Homo sapiens: one gene and its partner. The protein of the gene in region 1 purifies or fractionates together with the protein of each later gene. This does not show direct contact. Each region holds a gene or a part of one and is shown on either strand. Other genes may lie near its edges.

Region 1 (3,826 bases):
TATATTTAACCGTATAACCATTCTTCTAATATTCTGGAAGAAAGATTTTATCAATAAGTGCTATACAAAAGAGAAAAGAAACAAGTATAGATTATCTGCCAAAAAAGCATTAAATGTTCATTATGAAGTCAGAACGTGCTTTCTAACTTGGCTCTTATTTAACGTTACAGATTTTGTTACTTTTTAAAAGATCTTCTTTTACAGACTAATTTCTATTTAGCCAATGTGAAATTTGTCTCACTTGAATTGGTTTTAAATTTTACTGCTAGACTCTTCTGATAACTAATTTAGATAAAAAGGCTGAAAGAGTCTCACTTATTCCTACATCTCTCACATTAACTCTTAAGAAGGTTGTGAATTACAGTAAAATGTCATCTGGGCAGGATATACAGGCAGGGAAAATAGTATTTGGATTGTCCAGATATTCTGGTAATAGGATCAATGTGTCCTGTATCAATTTTTAGAAAAAAAATTATATTTCACAATACTGTTCTTATTCTATTTCTTTTTTAACTCAGAATGCACTTGGGGAAACCAGAGCTACCAGAATCATGTTCTTCAGTCATCATTGTGATGATGCAGATATTGTCACTGTAAGAAAGTCGGGATAACAGTATTCAGTTTAATAGTGTAATTCTAAACAATGTGTGTCCTGGCTGAAAGGAATGTTTGTCCCTGAAACTGCTGGCTCCCAACAGAGCTGTGAACAAAAGCCCTTAATATAAACCTCTTCCACTTCCTTTTTTTTCCACTCTTGGAGTTTTCTATTTGGGTTTTATGCCTATCTGTTTGAATCCTCTCTCTTAGGCCCTAGGGAAATTAGAAAGAAGTTATTAATTTCAGGGCAAATACCGGAAATTTCTTAAATACTAGTCAGTTTTATCTAGTGCTGGTTTACTACTTCATTGAACTGAAGAGCAATTAGATAATGTTAAAAGAATCTTCCAAGATTAATAAGCAGAATGTGGGATGGGGAGTACTAGTTTAAAGTCTTGAGAATGAAAAATGTTCCAAGGAAAAGGTGGACGCTGTTGTCTCTTTCTCTTTCTGCTCTGATGTAGTGCGTGTGCTAAGCTCAGGTCTGAGCACGGTGGATCCCATGGGTGTGGCTCTGAGGAAATTGACGCAGTGGACTGCTGCCGGACATGGAACTGGAATCCTCGAAATCACCCCTCTAAATGAAGCGATATTGAAAGAAATTATTGTGTTTGTGGAGAGTTTTATCTATAAACATCCTCAAGAGGCAAAATTTGTTTTTGTGGAACCACTTGAATGGAACACAAGTTTGGCGCCCTCAGCATTTGAATCAGGTTATGTTGTCAGGTAAGCCAGTTACTTGCTTCTAGGATTTGATATCTTCGTTGTACATAGTATTATCAATTGGTTCTAGGTTTGGGGGCAAGTCACCTAACCTCTCTGAACCTCAGAAGCCCTCTAAACCAGGGAATGAAAACCAGAGACACACAGGTGAAGTCTGAGGATATTCAGCTTGGCCAACACAGTATCTTTCTAAGTTTTAAATTTTTCAAATTAAACAAAATTTTAATTTTTGTGGGTAAATTTCTTTTAACAGGGCATCCGTTATCCAGGTCACTACACTGCCAACATCCATTGCTGCTTTATGCCTGGCCTTTCCACCCATATGTGGAGATATATATACACATATATATACTTTTTACAGATGAGGTCTCACTATGTTGCCCAGGGTGGTCTCAAATTCCTGGCCTCAAGTGATCCTCCTGCCTCAGCCTTCTACAATGCTAGGGTTACAGGCATGAGCCACCACACCAGGTCATCCATATTCTTCTGAATTTTATTTCTATAAATGTATGGGGTACTTCCGTATTACCTGCCAGATGCCAGGAGCCATTGGTTTCGTGACCTCTGATGTAGATGAAATCTCTTCTGGTATTTAAATTGATCAATTCCTGGGCTAGAAGCAGGAGGCGGCGGGGAGGGGTGATGAATGATGAATTTTGATTTTGCCCAATATAAGGGAGAGAATTCTTAAGAATTACTGGTGTCCTCAGATTAGAGCCTTTCAAATCTGAGATGAAAAAAAATTTACTTCTGTCTCAAACAGTGAACTCTCAATCTATCTCATTCAAACATGGCTAAAATATATATATACACACACATACGCATAAATTATGTGAACAAATTAAATATAATTGTATAAGAATGTATTAGTTCATTAAGCATTATAATTATACAATAAGTAAGCTAACAAATACACACACACACACACACACACACACACACACACATATATATATATATATTTGCCAGCCTCAGTTTATTTTGCACCTTAGGCATTCTATTTTCTACCACCTTGTTCTTCTTTGTTCTGGATATGAACTTTTAAAGTCTGATCATATAAAAACAGTTCCCTAGCTAGCCAAAGCTTCCTGTAGATGCCTTTTCCCTTTTCTCCCTTTGGGATTATTTGTGAGAATAAAGTCAGAATTTCATTTTTAGAACTGCAGCAAAACCATTCTTAAACTGTATTTCAAAAGCTCTTTAATTCTTCTATTGGTCAGCCTTCTCTCTGAGTTGTTTGAAGTCATATTTATTTATTTATTTTTTTTTCTGGAGACAGAGTCTCGCTCTTTTGCCCAGGCTGGAGTGCAGTGGTGTAATCTTGGTTCACTGCAAGTTCCACCTCTCTGGTTCAAGCAATTCTCCTGCCTCAGCCTCCTAAGTAGCTCGGAATATAGGCATCCGCCACCACGCCTGGCTAATTTTTTGTATTTTAGTAGAGACGGGGTTTCCCCATGTTGCCCAGGCTGGTCTTGAACTCCTGAGCTCAGGCAACCCGCCTGCCTCAGCCTCCCAAAGTGTTAGAATTACAGGTGTGAACCACCACGCCCGGCCTGAAATCTTATTTTTCTAATGGTGCATTTTATTTCTAACTGTGCCAGTGGTAACTTTCTCCAGAAGTTGTCATTTCTGTATTGTTCAGCTTTTTTCCTAAGCTTTGAAATATGATCTCCTACGTAAAACAAATTAAAAACATATTAACTACTTGGCTGATCATGGTGGCTCACACCTGTAATCCCAACGTTTTGAAAGGCCGAGGTGGGCAGATCACCAGAGATCAGGAGTTCAAGACCAGCCTGGCCAACATGGTGAAATCCTGTCTCTACTGAAAATACAGAAATTAGCCGGGCATGGTGGCACGTTCTGTAATCTCAGCTACTAGGGAGGCTGAGGCAGGAGAATTGCTTGAATCTGGGAGGTGGAGGTTGCAGTGAGCCGAGATTGCACCACAGAACTCCAGCCTGGGTGACAGAGAAACTCCATCTCAAAAAAAATTAATATTTTTTTATAAAAATGCATTTAAAGCAGATGACAGAAAAGAATATCATGATTGTTTTGCCTTTGTACAAATTTTGTGCTCCAAGCACAAACGTGATCACATCTGACCCCTAGTTAGGTGGGCTGTGACACACACCTCTCAAATCTATCACTATTTCCCCCTATTCTTGTCCAGATTCTTTTTGCCTTATTTCCATTCTTATATCTCAGCACACAGTTATTTATGTATTTATTTAAGACAGGGTCTGGCTCTGTTGCCCAGGCTGGACTGCAGTGGAGTGATCATAGCTCACTGCAGCTCAAACTCCTGGGCTCCATGGATCCTCCCACCTCAGCCCCTCAAGCAGCTAGGACTATAGGCACATACTACTATGCCTGGTCAATTTTTCTATTTTTTTGTAGAGACAGGATCTCACCATGTTGCTCTGACTGGTCTTGTACTTTTGGCCTCAAGAGATCCTTCTACCTTGGCCCCCTGAATTGCTGGTATTTCAGACCTGAGCTGCTG
Region 2 (3,826 bases), on another chromosome or scaffold:
CTTCTTAAACATGTGCAGTATAGTTACAATAACTAATATCCTTATCTACTAATGCTGTTATTTGTTTATTTAGGAGTTAGTTTCCACTGATTGATATTTCTTCTAATTGTGGATCACATATCTTGCTGCTTGCATGCTTGGTGATTTTTAATTATAAATTGCACCTTGTTAAGTGTTAAATAGTTTTGTGTCCTAATACCTGTTTAGATTTTTTTTTTTTCCTGGGATGCAGTTGTTGCTTGGAAGCATTTAATCTTTTTGGGGGTTGCTTTTAATATTTGTTAGGTGGGGCCAGAGCAGCTTTCGGTCTCAGACTAATCTTTCTCTAATGTTGAGGCAAAACCCTTCTGAGTACTCTACCCACGAATGATAAGGTTTTCCACTTTGAATGGTGGGGAGGGGATAGGCAGTATACCATGCCCTGTGTGAGCCCTGTATATTATTCCCTGCAATCTTTTCAGGTGGCCCTTTCCCAGCTCCAGGGAATTTTCTTACACATATGCCCAGACAGGACTCAGCTGAATATGGGAGGGGGATTCTCTGCAGAACTCTAGAGTTATTTCTCTGTGCAGCTCTTGTCTTCTCTTGTCCTCTGTCCTGTGAGCTCTAGCAACCTTGGTTTACTTGACCTCCCAGCTTTATCTCTTCGATTTAGGGGAACCACTGGGCTCCACCTAGGTTTACCCTGTCTGCATTGTGGCCTGGAAGCACTCTCCAGGCAATAAGCTAGGACAGTTGTAGGGCTCTGTTTCCCATCTGTTAGGGATCACTGTTCTTCATTGCGTAATGTCCAGTGCATTTTATAAGTTAGATTTTACTATTCTGTATCACATGCTTCCTTCCAGTTATTGCAAACTGATAAAGTTTTACTGTTGTTTTTATCTAATCCACTTTATTGCTCAAATCATTTGCCATTAAAATACAAATGGCTCTTCCCTAACTAAAAATTAAAAATGAAATGAAAAAAATTCAAGCTTCTAAAGTAAACGTTGCATAGTAAATATCGTGGTATATATACTCTGGTTTATCTTGCTGAAAGGCGTTGCTCTAGGGGTGATGAGTTGAAACCCAAGGTAATTTAGCCTGAGATGTGTTAGAAGAACAACTGACACGCCTATTTAATAAGTGTTATAGTCCCAGTTTGGTAAGTAAATATTTTCCACAGATATTTATAGTTTTTTTTTTGTTTCAGGTAGTCAAGTGAAAAAATGAGCTTCATCTGTGGATTGCAGTCTGCTGCTAGAAACCATGTTTTCTTCCGATTTAATTCACTGTCTAACTGGAGAAAATGTAACACATTAGCATCCACCTCACGGGGCTGTCATCAAGTACAAGTTAACCATATAGTAAATAAGTATCAGGGACTGGGAGTAAATCAGTGTGACAGGTGGAGTTTTCTGCCTGGAAACTTTCATTTTTATAGTACTTTTAACAACAAAAGAACAGGAGGCCTCTCAAGTACCAAAAGTAAGGAAATTTGGAGGATTACCAGCAAATGTACTGTATGGAATGATGCTTTTTCAAGACAGCTGCTAATAAAAGAAGTTACAGCAGTCCCTAGTCTGTCAGTATTGCATCCTCTAAGCCCTGCTTCCATAAGAGCTATTAGGAATTTCCATACTTCTCCACGGTTTCAAGCTGCTCCGGTTCCTCTCTTGTTGATGATTCTTAAACCAGTACAGAAGTTATTTGCAATCATTGTAGGCAGGTAAAATGCTTTTTTAGAATAAAAACTTTTATATTAACTTTTTGCATTAATATTTTGTGCTAACGTATTAACTTTTAGAAATTAATTTTTTTATTTATAAAACTGTACTTTTAAAGAAACCTTGCCAGATCCCCTGTCTCCCCCCATTTAGCTCAAAGTGAAGTTTCTAAACAGTAGGTCCTGCCCAATTTTGTTCTGTATGATTTAATAATCTTGAAACAATTTCCTGCATACTAATTTATGGTATAGAAATATCTCTTTAAAAAGTTATTCTTACATTTTGTATAGGCATTAAAAAAATCTTATATTTATGACTACAAAATCTTAGGATATATGGATCAGAAGTGCTGGTTATCACTTATGTATAAGAAGAGTACTTACAAACATTTCTTTTTAATTTGTGGAATTTAAGGCAGCAAATCATAAAATTGAGGAACTTTGCTTATATAAGGGTGGGCTCACTCCTAGTTAACTCTTAAGTCATTAATGCTTCTTTTCTTTCTATTCTGTTCCCAACAAATCTTTGTTTTTTTCCTTGGTGATCCTTTATAATAATATTTTCACAGCTTGTAGTGCTTTAACCCTTTTTCTCTTGTTTGTTTTATGAAGATGGAAGAAAGCTAATCACTGTTTCTTCATAAAGCTTTCTTGTGTTTGATGACTGTGAAGTCCCTTCTAGCCTTCTTACTACCACATGAACCAAACCAGTTTGCTTTTGATCAAAAACCAAGAACTTCTATTTGTAACTTATTGTGTTTTTCATGATTTGGTGTTGGCACCCAAAAGCGATACAGCTGTATTGACTATTGGTTGAAGTAATACGCTCATCCCAGGTTCTTCGGATGCTCTTTCTGATTTCTGCTATGTCCTCATCCTTTTAAATTATTTATTTGTAACTTTCTTGTTTTTGTTACTATTGTTGATCACCTAAAATTTTTCATTTAGAATATGTCTTTCATACATTTTAAATAAAGGATAATGTCATGTAAAGTTTTAAATAGGAAATAAGTATACTCGATAGTTTGATTTATGTCCCTTTAAATGGACACACTTTGTGTAAAGGCATTGGGGTGTGTCACTTCACAAAGAGAACTTTAAGAATTTGTAAAATAAATTTTTGTCAAGAGAATGATGTATATATGGTAAATTTTTGTTGTGATTTTACAGATCAACTCATAAGGAAAATTTTTGTCCCAGTATTGAAAACATTGCTTGTTGTCAAAATGTTTCTGAACACTGCTAAGTGGCAGAGAGTATTGTTGCCTGGTAGAAATTGGACCTTCTCAGATGTTATCTATAAAATCTCCCACTTTCTTATGAATACCTAGGATCTTGTTATCTCTCCTTTTTCACGTTGTAAAGAGGATAGTGGAGTTTCTGCTACTGAGCACTATTTATTTCCAAAATGAATGCTGAGGCAGTTTCCCTTGTACCTTGTGGAATCACTGGCAAATTGTGTTGGAGGTCTGAGGAGCAGTGGGAAAAGTAGTGGTTCCAGGTATAGATTTATTGTACTGTAACCTCTTACATAATTATTTAGGCATTTATCCCTATTAAGTGGCTAAGTGGTCAGACTCTGGAATGTCATTGCCTTCATTGCTTGGTTTTCCTTTTATTACCTCAGTGGCCATGGACAAGTTACCTAACAATTTTATCTTCTGTAACAGGGTTATTATGAAGATTAAATGAGATGGTATATATATATATACAGAGAGAGAGAGAGAGAGAGAGAATTTTGCATGTACTAGATAGTAATAAATATTAACCAGTGGTAGTTATAGTAAACTAGCATCTCATTTAGTGTTTATCCTTAAAATAGCTGAAGAAGAAAATTTCGATGAGTATTAGAATTTTTTAACTGTAACTTTACATCATTGATTATTTTTTCATCATTTAGCTAAGAATTTTATTAATTGGAAAAGCGATGTATTCAGCGAAATACATCATACAAATTCAGGTATTTGAGGACGTAAAATTCTAGTGTATGCATTTGAGCTTTAGTGATATGTGCTGGAATGATTTTCAGAACTTTGAATTTTTCTTTTTGCTTTAGGGGCATAAGGAAATGGTGGCAGGCACTTCCTCCTAACAAGAAGGAAGTAGTTAAAGAAAATATAA

What was found.
Region 2: the proteins of ODAD2 (region 1) and OMA1 purify together in Homo sapiens (affinity purification with mass spectrometry; one large-scale study listed by BioGRID and IntAct). This does not show direct contact.

Annotation. Positions count from the first base shown.
Region 1 is NC_000010.11:27,992,416-27,996,241, reverse strand, and holds part of ODAD2 (outer dynein arm-docking complex subunit 2), read left to right. Parts: intron 1-518; exon of another isoform or gene 519-593; intron 594-630; exon of another isoform or gene 631-1,061; 5' UTR 1,062-1,099; coding exon 1,100-1,323; intron 1,324-1,849; exon of another isoform or gene 1,850-1,933; intron 1,934-3,826.
Region 2 is NC_000001.11:58,536,677-58,540,502, reverse strand, and holds part of OMA1 (metalloendopeptidase OMA1, mitochondrial precursor), read left to right. Parts: intron 1-1,192; 5' UTR 1,193-1,208; coding exon 1,209-1,708; intron 1,709-3,761; coding exon 3,762-3,826. UniProt on the Homo sapiens protein: Metalloprotease that is part of the quality control system in the inner membrane of mitochondria. Activated in response to various mitochondrial stress, leading to the proteolytic cleavage of target proteins, such as OPA1, UQCC3 and DELE1.